2 separate regions of the Homo sapiens genome follow, and region 1 is linked to region 2. The links come from fine-mapping of genetic effects on gene expression. Tissue or cell type: whole blood. Region 2 holds a variant in brackets; the other region holds the start of a gene. All regions are shown on one strand. Distances are from middle to middle.

Region 1 (5,379 bases), 23 kb before region 2:
GCCAAGCACAGTGGTCTGTACCTGTAGTCTCAACTTAGTCTCAACTCCTTGGGAGGATCACTTAGGCCTGGGAGGTGGAGGCTGCAGTGAGCTGTGATTGCACCACTGCACTCAGCCTGGGAGACAGAGTAAGATTGTCTCTAAGGAAAAAAGAAAAAAAAAAAAGCTGCAGTGGCTAAATTCATATAAGACAATGTAGATAGGTAGACAGTCCATATTCTGGGCCATAAAAGAAAGCTCAATAAAATCAAAATGATTCAAGTCATACAAAGTATGTTTTCTGACTGTAATGCAATTAAATTTGATATCACAGAAAGACTCCTGGAAAATCCCCAAATATTTGTAAAGTCAGTAACACACTTCCATAAGAGAATGTACAAAGTATTTTGAACTGAATGAAAATGAAAACACCATGTACTAGAATTTGCGGGATAATGCTAAAGCGGTACTTGGGAGGAAATGTATAGCACTAAATGCCTATTTTACAAAACAAAAAAAAAAGAAAGATCTCAAATCTGTGACTTCAGCTTCCCCCTTAAAACTAAAAAAAGAATAGCAAATTTAACACAAAATAAATATAAAAAAGACATTAAAGATCAAAGTGAAAACTAATGACATAAAACAGAAAAGTAATGAAACCAGAAGCTAGTTCTTAAAGAAAAATTAATAAAATTCATAAACCTCTAGCCAGTGACCAGAAAAAAAGAGAGAATACACAAATCATTAATATTAGTAATAAAAGAAGTGACATCACTGCAGGTAATAAAAGATAAGCACATATTATGAACAACTTTATGTGAATAATTTCTACAACTTAGATAAAATGGATAAGTTCCTTGAAAGGCACAAGTTACCAAAACTCATTTAAGCTGGGCGTAGTGATGCATGCCTGTAGTCCCAGGTACCTGGGAGGCTGAGCGGGGAGGATTGCTTGAGCCCAATTTGAGGTCAGCCTGGGCAACATAGAGAAAACCGTTGTCAAAAAATAAAAATAAATAAATAAAAAGAGATAACCAGAGTAGCCCCTGTATCTACCAAAGGACTCAAAACTGTACTTAAAAACCTTATCAGAAAGAAAACCCCATGCCTAGATAGCTTCACTGTTGAATTCTACCAAACATTTAAGGAAGAAATGCAGTCAACTCTACATAAATTCTTCCAAAATATTAAAGAGGAGGGAATATTTCTCATTCTATGGAACAAAGACATCACAAGAAAAGAAAACTGCAAATCAATACCTCATAAACATAGATACAGAAATTCTAAATAAAATTTTAACAAATTAAATTCAATATATAGTACTAATAAAATAATAATACACCATGACGAAGTCGGTTTTATCCCACCGCAGAGTTGGTTTAATATTTGAAAGAAAAATCATGTAATTCACCACATTAACAAAGAGAGGCTGGGCACGGTGGCTCACGCCTGTAATCCCAGCACTTTGGGAAGCCAAGGTGGGGGAATCACGAGGTCAAGGGATCGAGACCATCCTGGCCAACATGGTGAAACCTGGTCTCTACTAAAAATACAAAAATTAGCTGGGTGTGGTGGCGCGTGCTTGTAGTCCCAGCTACTCGGGAGGCTGAGGCAGGAGAATCGCTTGAACCCCAGAGGTGGAGGGTGCAGTGAACCAGGATCGCGCCACTGCACTCCAGCCTGTCGATAGAGCAAGACTCCATCTCAAAAAAAAAAAAAAAAAAAAACCATATGGTCATCTAAATAGACACAGAAAAAGCAATTGTCAAAATCCAACATCCATTCCTATAAAAACTCTCACCAAAGTAGTACTAGAAGAGAATGCCTGATAAAGGACATTTACAAAACAAAACAAAACAAAAAAGCAAGAAACCTACAGTGAACATCAGTCTTCAGTGTGAAAGATTGAATGCTTTCACTTTAAAAGCATAAATAAGACAAAGATATCTGCTCTCACCACTTCTGTTCAATATTGAAATAATGCTTCTAGCCAGTGCAGTAAGGCAAGACAAAATAAAATAAAAGGCATCCAGACTGGAAAGAAAGGAGTAAAACTATCTTTACTCATAGATGACCTATGTAGAAAATACAATGGAATCTACAAAACAGTTACTAGAATTGCTATACTGAAGAAGTAAGTACTTCTCCAAGCCTGCGGACTAGGGTGAAAGGGGTCTTTATTGGATGTAATAATGCAGATTTCCACATTTCATAATTTTTATTTTTAAGCTGGCTTCAAATGCCAAATCCCAACCAATCCCCCCACACTCACTAGTTTTCTAGTCTTAATTTGGGCATTCTCACCTCTCCATCCCTCTCATAGTGACAGATGCACAATGGAAGCCACTGGCCTACACAACTCAAGATCTGAATGCAGAGGTGACACCTGCTCTCTCTTGACATCTAAAGGGTGGGAGGGAGGGAGAGGATGCTCACTCACCTGGCGCCAAGCGGTCTGGAACATGGCTGGCGTCCCAGCTTCACACACTGCCTCAGGGTTCGGAGAAGTGAAACTGAAGAGAAAATAAAGAAGCACCGGTGAGATTGATGCTGCCTCGCACCCCGCAAATGCCCTCTGTGCTACTTGGGCCCCTCTCCTTTCCGCCAACTCCTCACCCCAAAAAGCAAAGGGGTTGCAAAACCAGGCAGAACAAGCCCCAGGAAAACCAATCAGTTACCCGGACCGCGAACCTCTTCAGCTCGGACCGCGAATCCCGCGCGGCGCAGGCGCAGATAAAGCGTGGAAATTCCACCTGCCGCCGACACCGGGGAAAGCTTGAGACCCTCCGCCGGAAGTGCGTTTTCCATGCCCCTCCTCTCTAGGAACCTGGGAAGTTGCCAGTCTCTGTGGTTTCCTACCCCCGCCGTCAGCGCCAGTGTCCCTACTGCCTGAGACAACACGGGCCCGAGCGGGCGGCCCCAGGCAGGGGTCCTGCAGCGCCCACACCTGGTAGCTCCTTCGGGGCATGACGTCTGGCCAGCTCAGGCCACAGAATGGTTACTATCCTGGGTATTATTCGTGGTTATCTGGCATTTGCCACTCTGGGTGTCCTTCCAGATAATGAAGGGACCATCGCGCCCTTCACATGCGCCAAAACTGTCTGGATTGTGTGGGTGCGCTGCAGTGGGAAAAGTGGGTGTGGGGAAAGGCGAACCCATTACTCAGAAGGCCGAATGTGTATGGACTACGTAGGTCCAGAAACCCAGCTGCACCACTTGCTAGTTGTGTGACCTGCAGCAAGTTTCTTTGCCCCGGTTTCCTTGTCTATTAAATGGGTATTATGATGGTGGTACCAACCTCTTGAGGCTGTTCAGGGTTAATTCATTAAATTAGTTAATTGATAGGTAAATTATTTACAGTTGTGCCTGGCACATAGTATGTACTCGTGAGTTTGTATTGTTTTGTTTTCCAATTGTGTTTTTTGAAGACACAAAATAGGTGCTGCTGGGACTCCAATATGTGGCGTGCTTTAGGGAAATAGATTTTTTTAAGGACAATTTTCGAAGTTTAGCGAAAGAGCTATTAACATTTGGCTTAGAGCCCTTTCCTGCCCTGTACTGGGATGTGTGTCCCGGCCCAGCCTGGAAACAGATTTTAGTTATTCCTTCCACAGGAATTAGATTTATCCACCACTTTCAAAACAAGTCCTGCCATGGAGAGTATATTATGTATCTACTGCTGGATAATAAACTACTCTAATGCTTTGTGGCTAAAAACAATAAACATTGTTATCTTTTGACAGTTTCTGTGGACCCAGAATTCAAGAGCAGCTTGGCTGGGTGGTACTGGCTGAGGGTCTCTGCTGAGGTTGCAGTCAGGTGTCATGTGGGGCTGAAGTCATCTGAAGCTTGACTGAGTTTGGAGGATCCACCTCCAAGGTGGTTTACTCACATGGCTGTCAAGTGGGTGCTGGTTGTTGGCAGGAAGCGTCAGTTCCTTCCCATGTGAGGGTTTTCACAACATGGCATGTAGCTTTCTCCCAAAGTGAGCAATCCAAGAGGCCAAGGCCAAAGCTTTTATGACCTAGTTTTGGAAATCATGCATCATGATTTCCTCAATACATTCTCCTCAGATTAGTCATGATTCAGTGTGGGAAGAGATACACAAGGTTTGAATGCCAGGATATGAGAACCATTGGGAGCCATTGTGGGGCCACCTAGCACAGAGATTTTAACTGTCACAGAAACAGTTCATTTTATAAAATCTATAGTATTTTCACTTTAAAGTTTATGCACAGCACTTGTTTTAAATAATTAGATTTCCAGAAACAATGGCATGACAAGGACATACATGTGCATACTGTCCCTTCGCTAAACCTATTAAAATGAACATTTACCATGAGTGGGTGCACATAAACGTACATACATATACACCACAAATTCTAAACAGTATTAGCCAGTGGAAAAAAACATGATAAATTGGACTTAATCAAAGTTAAATCTTCTGCTTTTCAGAAGATACTTTTAGAGAATGAAAAGACAAGCCACAGACTGGGAGAAAATACCAAAAATATTTGATAAAAGACTTGTTTCCAAAATATATAAAGGACTCTCAAAACTCACTCATAAGAAAATAAACCAATTTTTAAAAATAGGCAAAAGATTTGAACAGATACTTCACCAAAGAAGATATATGGAAAGCAATTAAATATTTGAAAAGATGCTCAACATTGTTAGTCATTAGAGAAATGCAAATTAAAACCGCAGTGAAACAGTATTACACACTTACTAGAAAAGCTAAAAGTAGAGACAACATCAAGTGTAGGCAAAGATGTATCAGAAGTGGAACCCATACAATACTGATGGAAATGTACAATGGCACAGTCTCTTTGGAAAAACTTTGCAGATTCTTTAAAAATTAAATATACACCTACCTTATTATCTAGCCATTTCACTCTTGTTATTTACCCAAGAGAAATGAAAACATATGTCCTTACATTACAAAGACTTGCATACAAATTTTCATAACAGCTTAATTTATAATAGCCAAAAACTGGAAACAATTCAAATGGCCATCATTTGAGTTAAGTTGTGGCATATCCATACAGTGGAATACTACTCAGTAATAACAAGGAATGAACTACTGATATATATGCAACAACATGGGTGAATCTCAAAATAATTCTGTGTTGTGAAAGACATCACACCAAAAAAAATAATAACTTTAAAAAGAGTACATACTGTGTGATAGCATTTATATAAAATTCTAGAAAAGGAAAACTATAGTAAAAGAAAACAGATTGGTGGTTTCTTGGGGCTGGAGGCAGGAGAGGAGCAGGCTGGAATGGAGAGATTATAAAAGGGCATAAGGAAACTTTTTGGGGTATGATTATGTTTGTTATCTTGATTGTGTTATTTTTTGAGAGACATATACATATGGCAAAACTTATCAAATCATAC
Region 2 (5,379 bases):
AGAGGAAACCAAAGGTGAGAAAAGCAATCTCTAAACCAGAGAAGAGAAAGATGGGTAGGCAGCTCTAGCACCACATAGTATCCAGAGGGCTGGGAGGTACTGTCTACAACAGTGGATCTCAAAGTCCAATCAAGGCATAAAACCTGTCAAAATACTTTAAAATATTCTGTAATTTTTAAAGAAATGCTCTCTAGTTCTCTATCACAAGCCTGGCTGGACAGAAAGCAGTTTGTAACACTGCTGCTTATAAAGGGTTCATGAGAAGACCACAATTTTAAAACCCAAGTGCTGTCCTTTGGGAGACTGACCTTTGAAAGGAAAAAAGGCCCAGCCAAGAACCTGCCCATAATGGAGATGGCAATTGGAGCGGGGGTATGGGGATCATGCTTTCACTGGTAGCACCACAACATAGAAACCTTTTTTGCCTGTCAAGCACCAAAGATCTGACAAATGAAACTTTCATCTTAGTGTTTTTTGAGGCTTGTTGACCATGACTCACATTTTGGATCCTAAAACAATACAGACATGTGCACACACACACACACACACACACAGCTGAAACCGAAACAAAACAATGTCCTTATTAAGAGTGATGTATTCATGCCGGGCACAGTGGCTCATGCCTGTAATCCCAGCACTTTGGGAGGCCGAGGCAGGTGGATCACCTGATTTCAGGAGTTCGAGATCAGCCTGGCCAACATGGCAAAACCCCATCTCTACTAAAAATACAAAAAATTAGCCGGATGTGGTGGCGGGCACCTGTAATCCCAGCTACTCATGAGGCTGAGGCATGAGAATTGGTTGAACCTAGGAGGCAGAGATTGCAGTGAGCCAACATTGCGCCACTGCGCTCCAGCCTGGGGGATAGACCAAGACTCTGTTTCCAAAAAAAAAAAAAAAATGATGCATTCACAATAGACTTTATACTACTTTAGTCTTTATCTACACCTAATACAATGTAGTCTAATTTTTAAATGCTGGTAACAACTCATTGATGAGTTGCAACCCAGAGTTTAAAGAATATGGTTCTAGATTGTCAAGAACAGTGGTCTCAAATGGTGGTCCCTGGACCAGTATCATCTGGGAACTTGTTAGATATGCATATTAATGGGGCTGGGTTTGGTGGTGTGTGCCAGTAGTCCCATCTAATTAGGAGGCAGAGGTGAAAGAATCACTTGAGCCCAGGAATTTGAGACTGGCCTAGGCAAAATAACAAGACCCTATCTTGAAAAAAAAGAAAAAGAAATGCACATTCTCAGCCCCACACCAGTCTTCTGAATTCGAATCTCTGGAGGTGGCACCTGGCAATCTGTGTTTTAACAAGCTCTGCAAGTAATTCTGATACATACGAGAGTTTGAAATTTACTAATCTATAAACTACAAAAAACAGATTGAGGCTGCTGTTTTCATTGTTTAAGGCTGCACTTTCCCAAAAGGTGGCCACTAGCCACATGTGGCTATTTAAATGTAAATTAATTAAAATGGAATAAAATTAAAAACTCAGTTCCTCAGCTGCACTAGACACACTTCAGGTGTTCATGTGATTCATCTGGCAGGCTAAATAGAAAATGTACACCTGTGGCAAGGGGAAACACTAACAACTGCAGGAAGGATACTGGGAAAGCCCCTACATGATCTGAAATGCTGAAATCAATTTAAGGTATTGATTAAGGCAAAGTGGGGAAATTAGAAAGGAGCATTTGCCTTACAGAGGCTCTGAATAGCATAAAAGATTGACAGAATATGATAACAGAGCCCATAGAATAAGGAAAGCTGTATACCAAATCTCTGATTGGTCTTTACATTTAACTCAATTCAGTATCTTTCAAAAAAGAAAACCATTCATTCCCAATACATAAACAAGCTTTCTTTCAAAAGCTAATGTAAAATTCAGTGTTTATGAACTTAGAAAAATTCCATTTACATATATAGTTTTATACACACACACACACAAAATGTTCTTATAAAAACAAGTTCTAGCTGGGCGCGGTGGCTCATGCCTGTAATCCCAGCACTTGGGGAGGCTGAGGCAGGAGAATCACTTGAGGTAAGAAGTTCAAGACGAACCTGGGCAACATGGTGAAACCCTGTCTCTACTAAAACTACAAAAATTAGCCGGGTGTGGTGGCGGGCGCCTGTAATCCCAGCTACTTGGGAGGCTGAGGCAGGAGAATC[G/A]CTTGAACCTGGGAGGCAGAGGTTGCAGTGAGCCGAAATAGTGCCACTGCACTCTAGCCTGAGTGACAGAGCAAGACTCTGACTCAAAAAATAAATAAATAGGCCAAGTGCAGTAGCTCACACCTATAATCCCAGCACTTTGGGAGGCTGAGGTGGGCAGATCAACTGAGGTTGGGAGTTCGAGACCAGCCTGACCAACATGGCGAAACCCCATCTCTACTAAAAATACAAAGTTAGCTGGGTGTGGTGACACATGCCTATAATCCCAGCTACTTGGGAGGTTGAGGCAGGAGAATCGCTTGTACCTGGAAGGCAGAGGTTGCGGTGAGTGAAGATCACGCCATTGCACTCCAGCCTGGGCAACAAAAGTGAAACTCTGTCTCAAAAAATAAACAAACAAATAAATAAATAAATCTATTTTTTAAAAACCAAGTGCTTGGCCAGGCATGGTGCCTCACACCTGTAATCCCAGCACTTTGGGAGGCCGAGGGTGGGGCGGACCAAGAGGGCAGGAGTTCGAGACCAGCCTGGCCAGCACAGTGAAACCCCATCTCTACTAAAAATACAAAAATTAGCCAGTCATGGTGGCACGCGCATGTAGTCCCAGCTACTCAGAAGGCTGAGGGAGGAGAAACACTTGAACCCAGGAGGCGGAGGTTGTGGTGAACCACAACTGCGCCACTGCACTCCAGCCTAGGCAACAAAGCGAGACTCCATCTCAAAAAAAAAAAAAAAACCAAAACCAAGTTCTTACTATATTGTGTTTATATTCCTGAGCTGACGAACCAACAGAAGCCTGTTTGAAATCTTTTGTTTTTTAGAGATAGGGTCTCACTCTGTCACCCAGGCTGGAGTGGAATGGTGTGATCCTAGCTTACTGCAACCTCAAACTCCTGGCTCAAGGGATCCTCCAGCCTCAGCCTCCTGAGTAGCTGGCACTATAGGCACATGCCACCATGCCCAGCTAATTTATTTATTTATTGTAGTGACAGGGTCTTGCTATGTTGTTCGGGCTGGTCTTGAACTCTTGGCCTCAAGCACCCTCCCACCTTGGCCTCCCAAAGTGCTCGGATATAGGTGTAAGCCACCACATCCAGCCTGAAATCCTTTAGCTTTACAAAGAAAAATGGCAGAAATAAAATGGCGGGACTCGTCTTTTCTAGTTCGGGGATGAAGTTCTGGTAAGCAACACTTCTTTGAATAAGAGTGACTATTTTAATCCCCACAACCATCATATGACAAGGAAAAACCTTTTTCATGCTAAATTGTTAAAAGAAAGGAGGAGGCAAAGCTGGAAAGGAGGATGGTAGGCTCTCCTGCTCACCTGTGCACATGCCTCTCAGGGCCTCTCCCCCAGCAAGTGTCCAGGGATCTGGGCCCCATGCTGCTTCTCCTTGCTCCAGCTGGAATATCAGATCTGGTTTGGGGAATGGAAATGCTGCTACAGGAGAAAGAAAAGGAACATGAAGCTGAGGAGAATCAACACTGACCTCCCTCAGACTACACTCTGCTTTGCCAGATGAAAATAGAAGAGGATGGCCCAGGAGACTAAGTGAAGTCAGGGAGGAGTGAATCTGCAGAATCTAAGGAAGGGCTTGAAGCTTACTCTGGCCTCTAAGAGGACAGAATGCTCCCAGAGTCACTGGGGGGTGTGTACACGAGGGCCCTAGGGGACTCACACATAGGCAATAGGGCCAAGATCAGCTCCAGGGAACTGGAAGATGGAAGGAATGAAGACAGTGCACCAGGAACCTTCTCAGTTCTCTCTGTATCCAGAGGAAAGCCCCCTGCAGTTGGGTCTCCATTAGGAACCAGGGAAGAGAAAAGTCCTGTTAAACACCAAAGTGAACCGAGCTCTTTCTCCATCCAGCTACCCCTGGCACTGGGGATTAGGGAGCTCAGCCCATAGGGCATCAATTCTGATGGTATTAAAGAGATCCTAGTTCTGCTAAGGAGGAATCTAGGAGCTCCCAAGGGCAGAAGCTGAGTTTCAGAGAGGAAGGAGGACTTACACAAGGAAGTCACATTTGCATAATTCTCCAGCATCACCTCCCTGTATAGGGCCCTCTGCGTAGGGTGCAGGCTGGCCCATTCATTCTGGGTGAAGTACACAGCCACATCCTCAAAGGTTACTGGCTCCTGAAACAACAGGTTCCTGCCCAAGCCCTGCACAAGAACAGAGGGAGAGGCCTGAATTCCAGGAAAGGGATAAATTTACTGGAATCCATGGCACTGAGCCCCATGGAAGGTTTGTACTGGCAAGGAGAGCCACACAGGACCCCAGCAGGGGCAGCCCCGAGCCAGCATTCCAACTTTCCATGTGCATACCTCTGGGGCCCTAATATTATCATCCTAAGTACACAGCCCAGCACCTGTTGTTCTCTGCCTGGTGATCATGTCAACCCATGTCTGGTTCCACAGGCCAGGTATATTTTTCTGGCATGCTTTCTAAATCGACCACAGCAGGTAACCGTCTTTCACCCTGCCTCCATCCATCCTGAAGCACGTATCAGGGCCCTCCACCCAGCTTCTTTCTGGTCTTCCTCCTCTACATCTTCTGCTACAGACAGAGGAGTGATTTCATGAGGATAAAGTTCCTTTCATCCTGGATATTTCTCCCCTTTCTATCATCTTGCCTTATCAGAAGCTATTAATAGTTCTCCCTTGAAGGTGATGTGCAGTGTTACTTCTTTGTCTCCTAACACACTTCACTCCAGGACAGGATGGCAATCTCCCATCCTTCTGCAGAAATCTGCCCACTGATCACCTAAGCTCTGTCTGACCTGCCAATGCTGTCCTCTTCATTATGTGTCTCTCTCTTTCTGCTTCCCACTAAAACCACCTCCAGCTTCTCAGGGAAGAAGGACACCATCACAGGTTGTTTAAAGCTTTGTCCTGTGTCAGTTACTTTTAAATCAATTTGCTCAATCATTATAGCACATCTGTGAAATAAGAATTATTATTTCCATTTTCAGATGATGGGAATGAGCAATATTAAGCACTTTGAAATAGACTAAAAGGAGTCCTCTTTGAGTATTTATTACAAGGTTGTATAAGGAAGCAAAAAGTTCAAAATGAACTGACCACTTTTATATAAATTAGTCCCATTAAAACATCTATCTCTGACTCACACTGTAGTCTTTCTCAATTCATCATGTCAACAACCTTCTCTTTGTACTTAAGTCTCTTCTGAGTGAAGAAATC

Evidence for each region. PIP is the estimated chance that this variant, and not a neighbour inherited with it, causes the effect.
Region 1: ZNF620 starts here. The variant in region 2 is the best candidate, but not a certain one, in a credible set for the expression of ZNF620 in whole blood (TOPMed, PIP 0.51).

The regions. Positions count from the first base shown.
Region 1 is chr3:40,503,417-40,508,795 of GRCh38, reverse strand. It overlaps ZNF620 (zinc finger protein 620), which reads right to left and starts at 2,757. Exons shown (of 5, transcript NM_175888.4): 1 at 2,658-2,757; 2 at 2,420-2,492. The coding sequence starts at 2,443.
Region 2 is chr3:40,480,825-40,486,203 of GRCh38, reverse strand. ZNF619 (zinc finger protein 619) reads right to left here. Exons shown (of 5, transcript NM_001145093.4): 3 at 4,188-4,341; 4 at 3,500-3,616. Among named protein-coding and RNA genes, the nearest start is that of ZNF619, 6.4 kb to the right of the region's middle. The variant G/A (reference allele first, on the strand shown) is at 2,176.